Linked DNA regions of Homo sapiens: region 1 is linked to region 2. Evidence: fine-mapped expression QTL. A gene starts in region 2. The other region holds a variant in brackets. All regions are shown on one strand. Distances are from middle to middle.

The links. PIP is the estimated chance that this variant, and not a neighbour inherited with it, causes the effect.
Region 1: its variant is the best candidate, but not a certain one, in a credible set for the expression of CENPT in whole blood (TOPMed, PIP 0.50).

Annotation. Positions count from the first base shown.
Region 1 is chr16:67,914,686-67,920,049 of GRCh38, reverse strand. All of the region lies in intron 2 of PSKH1 (protein serine kinase H1), which reads right to left. Among named protein-coding and RNA genes, the nearest start is that of CTRL, 14 kb to the left of the region's middle. RefSeq lists enhancers at 153-658, 3,811-4,334. The variant C/T (reference allele first, on the strand shown) is at 2,126.
Region 2 is chr16:67,844,733-67,850,096 of GRCh38, reverse strand. CENPT (centromere protein T) reads left to right here and starts at 2,404. Exons shown (of 16, transcript NM_025082.4): 1 at 2,404-2,696. It overlaps NUTF2 (nuclear transport factor 2), which reads right to left and starts at 3,164. Exons shown (of 5, transcript NM_005796.3): 1 at 3,112-3,164. RefSeq lists an enhancer at 2,279-2,388 and silencers at 2,859-3,208, 3,409-3,678.

The DNA.
Region 1 (5,364 bases), 70 kb before region 2:
AAGGGCTGGAGGTGGAAAAAGTGATGAAAGGCAGCTGTGACCCAGGGTGACGTGATGCTATGGGTGGTCAGCAGGAACGGCTGAATGCAGCAGCGTGGCGGGTGGGTCTGCTCCTGCCACTACAGGGAAGTTGCTGCTTTCTGGGGTGTATGCAACCAGGGCAGCAGTGACAAAGGGAAACCTAGAGGACAGGGCTCTGGGGAGCCCAGTGGTGGCACAGAGGTGACACAAGATGGGGCTGCTGCTCTTCTCCACTCAGAGCTTCCTCTGGCCTCACATGGAGAGAGCTTCCTCTGCCTTCCTGCCAGAGGTCTCCAACCAAGGGCAGGTCCCCAGCCACAGTGACCAACTGAGGGTCCACTGCCTCCATCCAGTGGCCCAAACCATGCCACCTCCCAGTGACTAGTCAGGAATCCAGCCTGAGGGCATTGGCTCCTGCAGTGAAGGAGGGAGACTTAATCTGTTGAACACTTCGTGTTTTGGTGAAGTGGGGATGGCTTTTCCCAAGGGAACCTTCCTGGCCAGGTATGGGGGCATCTGATCATCCTCATGGGATCCTCACACACAGACAGCACAAGCATCCAGCACTTGACATGCAGCAGCCCCAGCAGGCTGGCAGGGAAGAAGGGCTTAGGGACAGATGCCTCATAGCAAAGAATTCTAAACTGATTTGTGTTTGCTCGTGCTGTCAGCTATTGAGACAGTCGTGGGAAAGCCATCCTCTGACTCTGGGAGCAGGGGTCAGTGAGAAGAGAGTTGAGCTGATGGGTCCATCACAGTCCCCACCCACACTGAAGGTGAGAAAAGTCAGGCAATTAAAGCATCCAGGAGAATCCAAGCATAAGCCAGGAAACACGCTCCCCGCTTCCCTGCCTCCACTCTGCCACCAGCATATACATTTGGTCTCCTGCTCTCCAGACACCCGGACAGCGCTCCCCATGACTCTGGGATGAGGTCCTATCCCTGCTCACATGGCTGCTCCTTGTGACATATGCGGGGAGATGAGGGGCAGGGAGGGAGACAGAAAGTCAGAGCATAGGACCAGGCTGCATAACCAAGCCCCGTCACCTAGAGAGCACTGAGACATGCCACATTCTCTGCATCTCATTTTATCTTCTACATCCCAAGGCATGTTAGAGTCACTTTAAGAAGTGGGGAGGTCGAGTGTGGTGGCTCACACCTGTAATCCCAGCACTTTGGGAGGCCAAGGCAGGCAGATCACCTGAGGTCAGGAGTTCCAGACCAGCCTGGCCAACGTGGTAAAACCCCGTCTCTACTAAAAATACAAAAATTAGCCAGGTGTGGTGGCTGGCACCTATAATCCCAGCTACTTGGGAGGCTGAGGCAGGAGAATTGCTTGAACCCAAAAGGTGGAGGCTTTGGTGAGCCGAGATCACACCACTGCACTCCAGCCTGGGCGACAGAGTAAGACTCCATCTCAAAAAAAAAAAAAAAAAGAACTACAGGTGGTCAAGCTCATTGCCCCTTCAGGTATACTTAGCCCCAGATCAATGTATGGTCAACCTGCAGACCAGACACCCAACCCTGGGAGGCCACCTCCCACCAGCCCTTGTCACCCAGGTAGCAGCAGAGTGGCTATGAAGGTGGGCTTCCTCTCCCAACAGTACTCTGTCCCCTGCCCAGCAGCACTCACAAGGCTCTGTGAGAAATTCTACCCAAGCCCACCTGTTCCTAGTACAGTCACCTGGGCTCACCCACAGCTCAGAGACTGGCCAAGCAGAGGAGGGTGATAATTCAGGATGCTGAATGCAGCAGACAGCAAAGCTCCTAATGGCATCACTCTAATATCAATCCTACAAGAGCCCCTTCATCCGTCCTGCCTCTAGGAATAGAACTCTTGACAAAAGCACTGACATCAAGGATGTCACATTTCATGTCAAGTGAATCACAGACTCTCTGCATTGGAGGACCCTGACAGTTCTCTAGCATGAGTCTGTAGCTGATGACTCACCTTCTGTGTCATCCTTTAGAAACAGCTCCTCCAGGCCTCCTGTGATAGGAAGCCGCCTCTCAAGGTGACTGTGTCCTCAAACTGCTCTCACATTCACACAGGCCTTCGCTACCTCTCCCAACCTGTGTCTCCCCACCACTTCCAGCATGCCCT[C/T]TCCACTCCAGCGTGCCCTCTCCACTCCAGTGCCTCTGGGTGCTGGGTAAACATTCAGATTTTTCCTTTCCAGTCATCTCCTCCTCAGCATTTACCCCTCTTCCAAGAGTCTTGTATTTGCCCTAAAAGTTGACAAGCACACACCAGCCCTGGGCCTTTAAATCCTCCCCCTGCCTGTGCCCACAGGCAGCTGTGGCCAGCAGCCCCCTAAGCGCATTGCCAGCAGGCTCTCTGCTTCCTCCTGGAGTCTGGCCCCTTGAGGGGAGCACTCCACTGGCTGCACAGCCTGTCTGCCTGCCAGCAGTCACATTTGGGACGCTTCCCAGGGCATCACCAATAGCCACTGGTGCTTCCCTCAGGAGAAGCCAAGAGAAAATTCCCCCACCAGTTATCACTTATAAATACTGCAGTTCAACCCAGCATACAGGTACCACTGTGCACTAAGCCTGGACACGACAGTGGACAGCATATGTATTGATGTACATGCTGTCCTCAAGGACCCTACAGGCTAGACAGGAGAGATGTGTCCACTGATCAGCAGCCAGAAAGCACTGAAACAAGAAACCAGCAACGTGCTGAGGCACACATACCAGGGAGAGCAGACTGCAGCACTAGACAGGCCAAGAACTCTGAAGCCAAGACAGCCTGGAATCAAATCCCAGATGTGCCACCCTCCAGTCGGGAGACCATGGCCAAGTTATGTAACCTCACCATCCTCAGTTTCCTCATCTGTAAGGTGGGGGATTACGTACCACCTGGCAGGGTTGTCATAGATTGGAGATGGGGGGTGTAGAACATTCAGCCCTGGGTCTGCTACTTAGTGGGCACCACACAATGGCAGTAGGCAGCATTATTTCTAAAGGAAACAACTAAGACCGATACTGGGAGCAGCGTGAACAGTTGAGGCAGAAGCTTGGTGTGGAGAGTGAATGGGGGCAATGGCTCAGGCCTGTGGTGTGCAGGGAGTGGGGTGGGGTCTAGGGCATGGGCTTCAGGCTGGGGGATCTGGAGTGCCAGGATGGTAGGCAGGACCCCACATGCTCTCCAGGTCAGAGGGTAGCCTGGAATCCTCTCCAAGTCTGCCCATACAAGCTGATGTCCCTCCTGCAGAGCTAGGACTCTGCTCCATACTCCTTCACCTCCTATACTGTGGCTTACATATGCCATGTGGATCCCACTCCCTGGGATCCCTGATCTGCCCCAAACATCCCCAGGAGGACAGGATGGAATTATTCCAGTAGCCTCCAGCTAGCCTTCCTCCTGCCAGGCTCCATTCCCACTTTCTGCTGCCTTCCTCCTCCATTACCCAGAACCCAGAGGGCTCCTCCCACAGTGCAGAGGGCTCCCAACAACAAACACCAGACCTGCCCCAGCCTCTTCAACCTCTGCTCTGTCACTCCCAATCTCCTGTTTATTCTGGAGCACTCAGCAATGCTCCCTTCTCTGGGCCTCCTCCTTCTCAAAACTCATCTTCTGCAGGAAGCTTTCTATTCAAGTCCATGGATGCCACTGAGCCTGACAGAGGACTGGGGCTGCATGGACAGAGCTTGCAGGAAATAGGCACACCAGACCCGGCCTGGTGTACAGGGGAGAGCACTCTATGGGGTCAGGGAACAGGAAAGGTGCCCCTAGAAAGGCACCAAGCACCACGAGACACTCGCTGGTGAAGAATGCATACCTCCAAACGCTGCTGCGTCAGAGGTCCTTCATTCACACAGCAACAACCCCCTCATCATGGAACACTCTCTCTCTCACAGGTTATCCTGGCAGAGGCTTGCTCACTTACATGGCCTTCCTAATGGCAAACACCTATTACACATATAGGACAGATGGCTGGAGTGGGTGGGGTCAGGGCCCAACCACCTGACCTGAGCACCATAGTCCATGTTCCAGACTGCCCAGGCCCAGTGGCTCTATGCCAAGGCCTGTGTTCACATGTGTCTGCCAATGCGGGTTCATTCTATGGCCATTCCCTATTCTAGTTCCTTCTCCCCAGGCAATCTCAACCTCTAGGGATAGGAAGAACAGGCCTTCACGTCTCTTGCATTTTCCCCAGGTGTGAGCAGGTGTGCTTGTGGGTGGGCAGTGGCCAGGAGAACAACAATAACAAAAAATGCCTGTCCTAGTGTCCTGGGATAGAGCTATAAAAGCATGCCAGGTTGCTGGCAGGAGCTTGAAGGAGGTGCTGCCTCTGCTTACCAGGAGACCGTCTAGCTGTGAAGTGAGTGGCTGGAAGGAGTGATTGCTGGGTCCCATTCTAGCGATGTCTGTCCTCACCTCCATGCAGAAAAGTAAAGAGAAACCAGGGCTCTGCCAGGGAGTGGCAGAGGCTGGTACTTCTCAGACTCCTGATGTTTATGCACATCCCCTGGAATCTCATTAAAATGTAGATTCTGATTCAACAGGTTTTGTGGGGCCTGAGGGTCTGCTGGATGTTCTCCAGCTGAGAGAGCCTGATCTCATGATAAGGACCCCTCCCCCAGGAAATGTCCCAGACGGATCCCTCCCAACCCAGAGCTCTCCACAGCGGGTGATAGAATCTGATTTTTGGGGTCAGGCAAGCTCCTGGTCACAGATAAGGGCCACCAGAACCTGCCAGGATTTGCCTCTGGAGCTGGAAACTGATGCTTTTCAGCTCCAGGTAAAGGGTAGTGGGAGCAAAGGCTGAGCAGTGCCTCTCCAACACACACACACACACACACACACACACACACACTCTCTCTCTCTCTCACTCACTCACTCATTCACTCACTCATTCACTGTGAGCTGCAGAGTCCTGCCCTGTGATTCCAGCAGAAGAACAACAGAATCTAAGGACCCAGTCTTTCGGCTACAGTAGGAGCGGGCAGGAACCCACTCCCCACCCCATTCGTCATTTTCCAACCCTCAGGTAATCAATAGCCAGTTAGCAAGACTGTGCAAGCTCCAATTAGATTAGCTGCCAGGTCAACGACTGCCAGAATCAGGAACTCAGGCAAACCTACAGGCTTGTAGCAGAGTCCTTCCTCTGTCAGCGTATCTTGGGAAATCTCTCTCCCTCACTCCTGGGCTAAGTTCAATGCCCCCTCTGCCAGCTGGACCCTCAACAGCCTGGCACCATGCAGTGCTCCCAGAACACAATCAGCTTCTCAAGCTTCAGACATTCCCAGATCTATCTTAAAATTTCAGTTTCACCGGGTGCGGTGGCTCACGCCTGTAATCCTAGCACTTTGGGAAGCTGAGGCGGGCAGATCACCTGA
Region 2 (5,364 bases):
TTGTGATCACTGGGCAATTGTTCACATCTGTAATCCCAGCACTTTGGGAGGCTGAGGTGGGAGTATCGCTTGAACTCAGGAGTTTGAGACCAGCCTGGGCAACATATGGAGATGACATCACTGCAAAAAATAAAAATAAGGCCGGACGTGGTGGCTCACGCCTGGAATCCCGGCACTTTGGGAGGCCGAGACGGGCGGATCACGAGGTCAGGAGATCGAGACCATCCTGGCTAACACGGTGAAACCCCGTCTCTACTAAAAATACAAAAAGTTAGCTGGGCGTGGTGGTGGGCGCCTGTAGTCCCAGCTACTCGGGAGGCTGAGGCAGGAGAATGCTGTGAACCCGGGAGGCGGAGCTTGCAATGAGCAGAGATCGCACCACTGCACTCCAGCCTGGGTGACAGAGTGAGACTCCGTCTCAAAATAAATAAATAGATAAAAATAAAAATAAAATTAGGCCGGGATCAGTGGCTCATGCCTGTAATCCCAGCACTTTGGGGAGGCCAAGGCAGGTAGACCACCTGAGGTCAGGAGTTTGACCAGCCTGACAAATATGGTGAAACCCCTTCTCTACTAAAAATACAGAAATTAGCCAGGCATGGTGGCGTGCGCCTGTAGTCCCAGCTACCAGGGAGGCTGAGGCAGGAGAATCGTTTGAACCCAGGAGGCGGAGGTTGCAGTGAGCCGACATCGCACCACAGCACTCCAGCCTGGGTGACAGAGAGAGACTCCGTCTCGAGAGAAAAACAAAAACTCTCCTGGTCAAGTCACCCAGGGCCATGAAATACGCAAACTACGCCATAGCCGTAAGCCAGCTCACCTGAAATCTGTGTCCTAGAAAGTACCCACGCAGACAATCTACAGGGTCTTGAAATAACTGCTTCTAGTTCTAGATTTCACCTCATTGTCCTGTGGGTAGTCCCTCCTTATTGCCCAGCTCCACTGGCAAAGTTGGCCTCTCCTGAGCCTCTTGGATGAACCTGATTTCCATGTCCTCATGGGCCAGGATATGGACTAGGAAAGTTACATCCAGAGAGAAGGCAGGGCTTGGTAAAATCTGAGCAGCATTCTTGCCTATTCTTCCTGACCAGGGAGAATAACTAGGCAGAGCAATTCATATGCAAGAAAACTTCTAGGTCAAGAGTACTTGGAAGAAGTGACCAGAAATGAACAGAAAAACATTACCTGGGAAAATATTCAAGGAGGAAGAAAAAAATATGCAGGGTCAGTGGCTTTCTTCACCTTGGGTCTCAATCAGCCCTTCTAAGAGACCTGATATTCTGCTTGCTCCTGAGGCCAGAGCTGCAGAGATTGAGCTGCTGCTGCTTTTTTTTTTTTTCTTTTTCTTTTTTTTTGAGACAGAGTCTTGCTCTGTCGCCCAGGCTGGAGTGCAGTGGCATGATCTCTGCCCACTGCAACCTCTGCCTCCCGGATTCAAGCGATTCTCCTGCCTCAGCCTCCCAAGTAGCTGGGATTACAGGTGCACGCCACCACACCCAGCTTTTTTTATTTTGGAGACAGAGTCTTGCCCTGTCACCCAGGCTGGAGTACAGTGGCATGATCTCAGTTCACTGCGACCTCCACCTCCCGGGTTCAAGCAATTCTCCTGCCTCAGTCTCCTGAGTAGCTAGGATTACAGAAGTGCACCTCCACGTTCAGCTAATTTTTGTATTTTTAGTAGAGATGCGCTTTTGCCATGTTGGCCATGCTAGTCTGGAACCCCGGACCTCAGGTGATCCGCTGGCCTTGGCCTCCCAAAGTGCTGGGATTGCAGGCGTGAGCCACCGCGCCAGGCCTGAGCTACTTCTTTAGTCTCTGGAAAGACTGCGGCTCAGAGAAATCAACGCTTTACATGCCATCTCTCCCCTAGTCCCAAGGTCTTCTCTGGACTGGTTCCTTAATTTACCATCTCTCAATCAGAAGCGCCTTTACAAAGGATATCAGGATAGTATTTTTTGGTCAAAGATAACTCTTCCCCCAGAACTCAGTAGGGTCTCTGATGGCATCAGTAAGGGCAATTTCATAAAGCAACCAGGTTCCTGCCTGTTTACAGGCAGCTCCAGTTGTTGGGAAGTGAGCAAGCAAGTGAGGGGAAGCCAGACTTTCTGGAGCTTCCAGCCCTAGTTCTGCCACCCAGGCTTCGGGAGGGCCCCACAAAGTCTGAAATCTACGTGCCCCACCCCCCAAAGCCCCTTCCAGCCCAGGTTCTGGTTTAGCACTAGGCTCAAGAACCTCAGGCCTGAATTCTACTTCCCGTGCATTAAGTCCCACCTTAACATCCCATTCTTATGAAGTCATCCTGTCCTGCGGGGCAATTCTGTGTTGCTGCTGGGGCCTGGTCACTGATAGAGAAGGGCGTGGGCTGGGCCTACCCGGCAGGAGCCGCCTCACCCCATCAGGCCCAGATCCTCTAAGACAAGACAGGGATAAAGTCTCCCGTGGAATCCCCTCCCGCCTCATATTCCCTGACCCTGCCCTCCCTGCGAGAACTCCAGTCCGGGCTCCACAAAGGGCGCGGTAAGAAACGTACACTTCCGAGGGGCAGACAAGGAGGGGGCGTTCACCTACACCCCGGCCGGGCTATGGTCGGGAACAGGGTGAGGGGCCCAAGCCCCGGCTGCGGCAGGCGGGCGCCCTTACCCATGCTGACTCTGGAGCGGGCCGGGTGGCGCTGCCCATCCCCGGATCCTTCGTAGGTGGGTAGCAGGACGTGGGGCTGGGGTCTGCCCGCTAGCCAGCCTGCAGAGCTTGCGGGGCTCGCGCAGGCCGGGCCAGGCTAGACGGGGCGGGGCCCTAAGGCCCCATCCGGACGGTCCTGACTAGAGAAAAAGGCCTGGCCATGGCGCAGGCCGGTGCACCAGCCACCAGCACGGTACGGCCCAGATAGGCGCCCGGCTGGCTCTCTGTGCGTTACCCCCGGCCGCCGCCTCACAGGACCGGCGGGAGGCGGAGCCGCGCGCGACACATGGCCCGGGCCCCGCGCGGCTTCGGGCCGCCGGGGGGGGGGGAGGGGAGGGGCCGCCCGGGGACTCTCAGCGGAGCCTCCCGGCAGCCCAGAGAGCGGCTCCTGCGGCCCAGCCCCCGCCCCGGCGTGCTGGCCCCGACACTCACCCGAGGGGCTGGCACGATGGCGGCAGCGGCAGCGGCAACCCAGCGCGGTCTGCGGCCGACTGTCCCTTCCCCCCTGCCTTCCTTCGCCCGCCCCGCTGCACTCTGGGAGACGCAGTCCCACCGCCCCCCCTTTCCGGCATGAGCGCGCCGAGAGAAAACTACAATTCCCGGCGTGCTATGCGCGGAGGCCCAGACACGGCCCGCAGCGCGGGAGGTGAGGCTAAGCCAGGGAGGGAGGCTGCCGGGGCAAGCCCCTGAGAATTGTGGTCTAGCGGAAGCCTCTGGAACACTAGAGGTTGGCGCCAGGCTAGGGTCAGGGCTCAGTTGTCTCCTGGTCTCAGCTGGCTCGGCCCCGCCCAGTCTGTGCACTGGGGTGGGGGTTGGCCCCGCCTCCGTGGGAGCCCAGCCCGGCCCCAAGCTGGCCCAGCTGCCCCTCCCTGGGCCCCTGGGCCGTTTCCGCTCACGAAACCCCCTCCCCTTGGGGCTATGGCTGCCGCTGTTACTCTTCCGAGCTGTGTGGCCTTAACCAGCCCGGGCGGAACGCACAGCTCCTGCAATCCCAACATTCGTGCGCCTGCACCTCGGCGAGTCGGGCCCAAAGCTGGTTTCGAGCAGGCTAGGCTATTCTTGGGCCGGAGACTCAAATGTCCCTCAGGTGGGGCTTGGTTGGAGAGGTTACCCTCAAACTTCTACAGTCAGGGGTCCCCCCAAAACATTCTGTAAGGTTTTTTTGCAGCAGATAGAGCAGCTAAGTGTTTCATTTTTATTAATGAGGAAAGAGAAATGACTGACTTACCCAAAATTTCGCTGTGATTTAAGTGACCAGATTGTAAATAGTTCTCTTCCTACCCATTGCCCTTTCCTTTCAACGCCCATTTGTTTTCTTGGTAACACAAACATTTGTGGTAAGGCCAGTCTCTAGGTCAGACCTGTGCTTGGCAAAGAGATCTGCAGCCAACTTGGGGTACCACAGGTAAGGGAAATGGCTACAAGGCCTCTCCAGGCAACTCCTAGCCTTCCTTCCTGGCCGGAGGTCTCTCAGTACTCCTGTTCTTCCACAAGAGTTTTGCACCTTCCCCCACCCACAGGCTACCCCTCCAAGAGATGGCTGGTAAGACCGGACCACACTTCTGTTTTTTAAATCTCAGGTCTGTCAACACTACACTTTGCCTGACTAGATGCTTATTACTCAGCTAGTGAGAACTCTGCATTGCCCCGCTTATACATCTGCATCTGGGATCTCCCTTGCTCTGTGAACTGTCTTCTTCTCCCTAAGAAGCCAAAACACTGCCCATAACCTCCAGACACCAGGGAGGGTCCAGGGAGTACTGCTGAGAGCCTCAAGGGAGCCAATGCAGAAACAGCAGAAGTCCCTTCAATAAATAGGAGCTCAAGGATACACTGAAGAGCATGGCTGGATCCTGGAAAAGGCCTTGCTCCGACCGGGAAGATGTGAGACTGGCCCAATAGGAGCAACAAAGGGCACTGCAGTGCTTCCACCACCTGATTACCAGCCAGATCTAACCCTAGGAAGACAGAGGTCCAGTCCATCCCCCAACCAGCCACCTACACAACCTATGTCTCACTCCTTCCCCACCACTTTCCCAACTCAGTGCTAAGGGACTAGAAGGGAAACAGAGACTTGAGTTTTAGGACCATCCCAGCATGTTGCCACAGACAAGTCCCCAGGCAGATGGCTTTGTCCATAAGTAAGAAAGAGAAGGGAGTCATATTTTATGGGGTCTGAAAGTCTCCGTTTGTGCCCCACCACCCACAGTAAACCCAGAGCTTTAAAGGCATTTACTTTTAGACATTGGCTTTGAGCTAAATTACTTGGAGCTATAGACAAAAGCAATGTAATCCTTGCCCCTTCAATATTCAATCTAAGAAAAAATAGAGGCTGGGCGGGGTAGCTCACACCTGTAATCTCAGTACTTTGGGAGGCAGAGCAGGCGGATCACCTGAGATCAGGAGCTCGAGACCAGCCTGGCCAACATGGTGAAATCCTGTCTCTACTGAAAATACAAAAATCAGCCCGACGTGGTGGCGGGTGCCTATAATCCCAGCTACTCAGGAGGGTGAGGCAGAAGAATTGCTTGAACCTGGGAGGCAGAGGTTGCAGTGAGCTGAGATCACACCATTGCACTCCAGCCTGGGTGACAAGAGCAAAGCTCCATCTTAAAAAAAAATAAAAAAAAAAAAATAGAGGCAGGCAGCCAAGAAAATGAGTCAAGGAATCACACCTCCCAACTT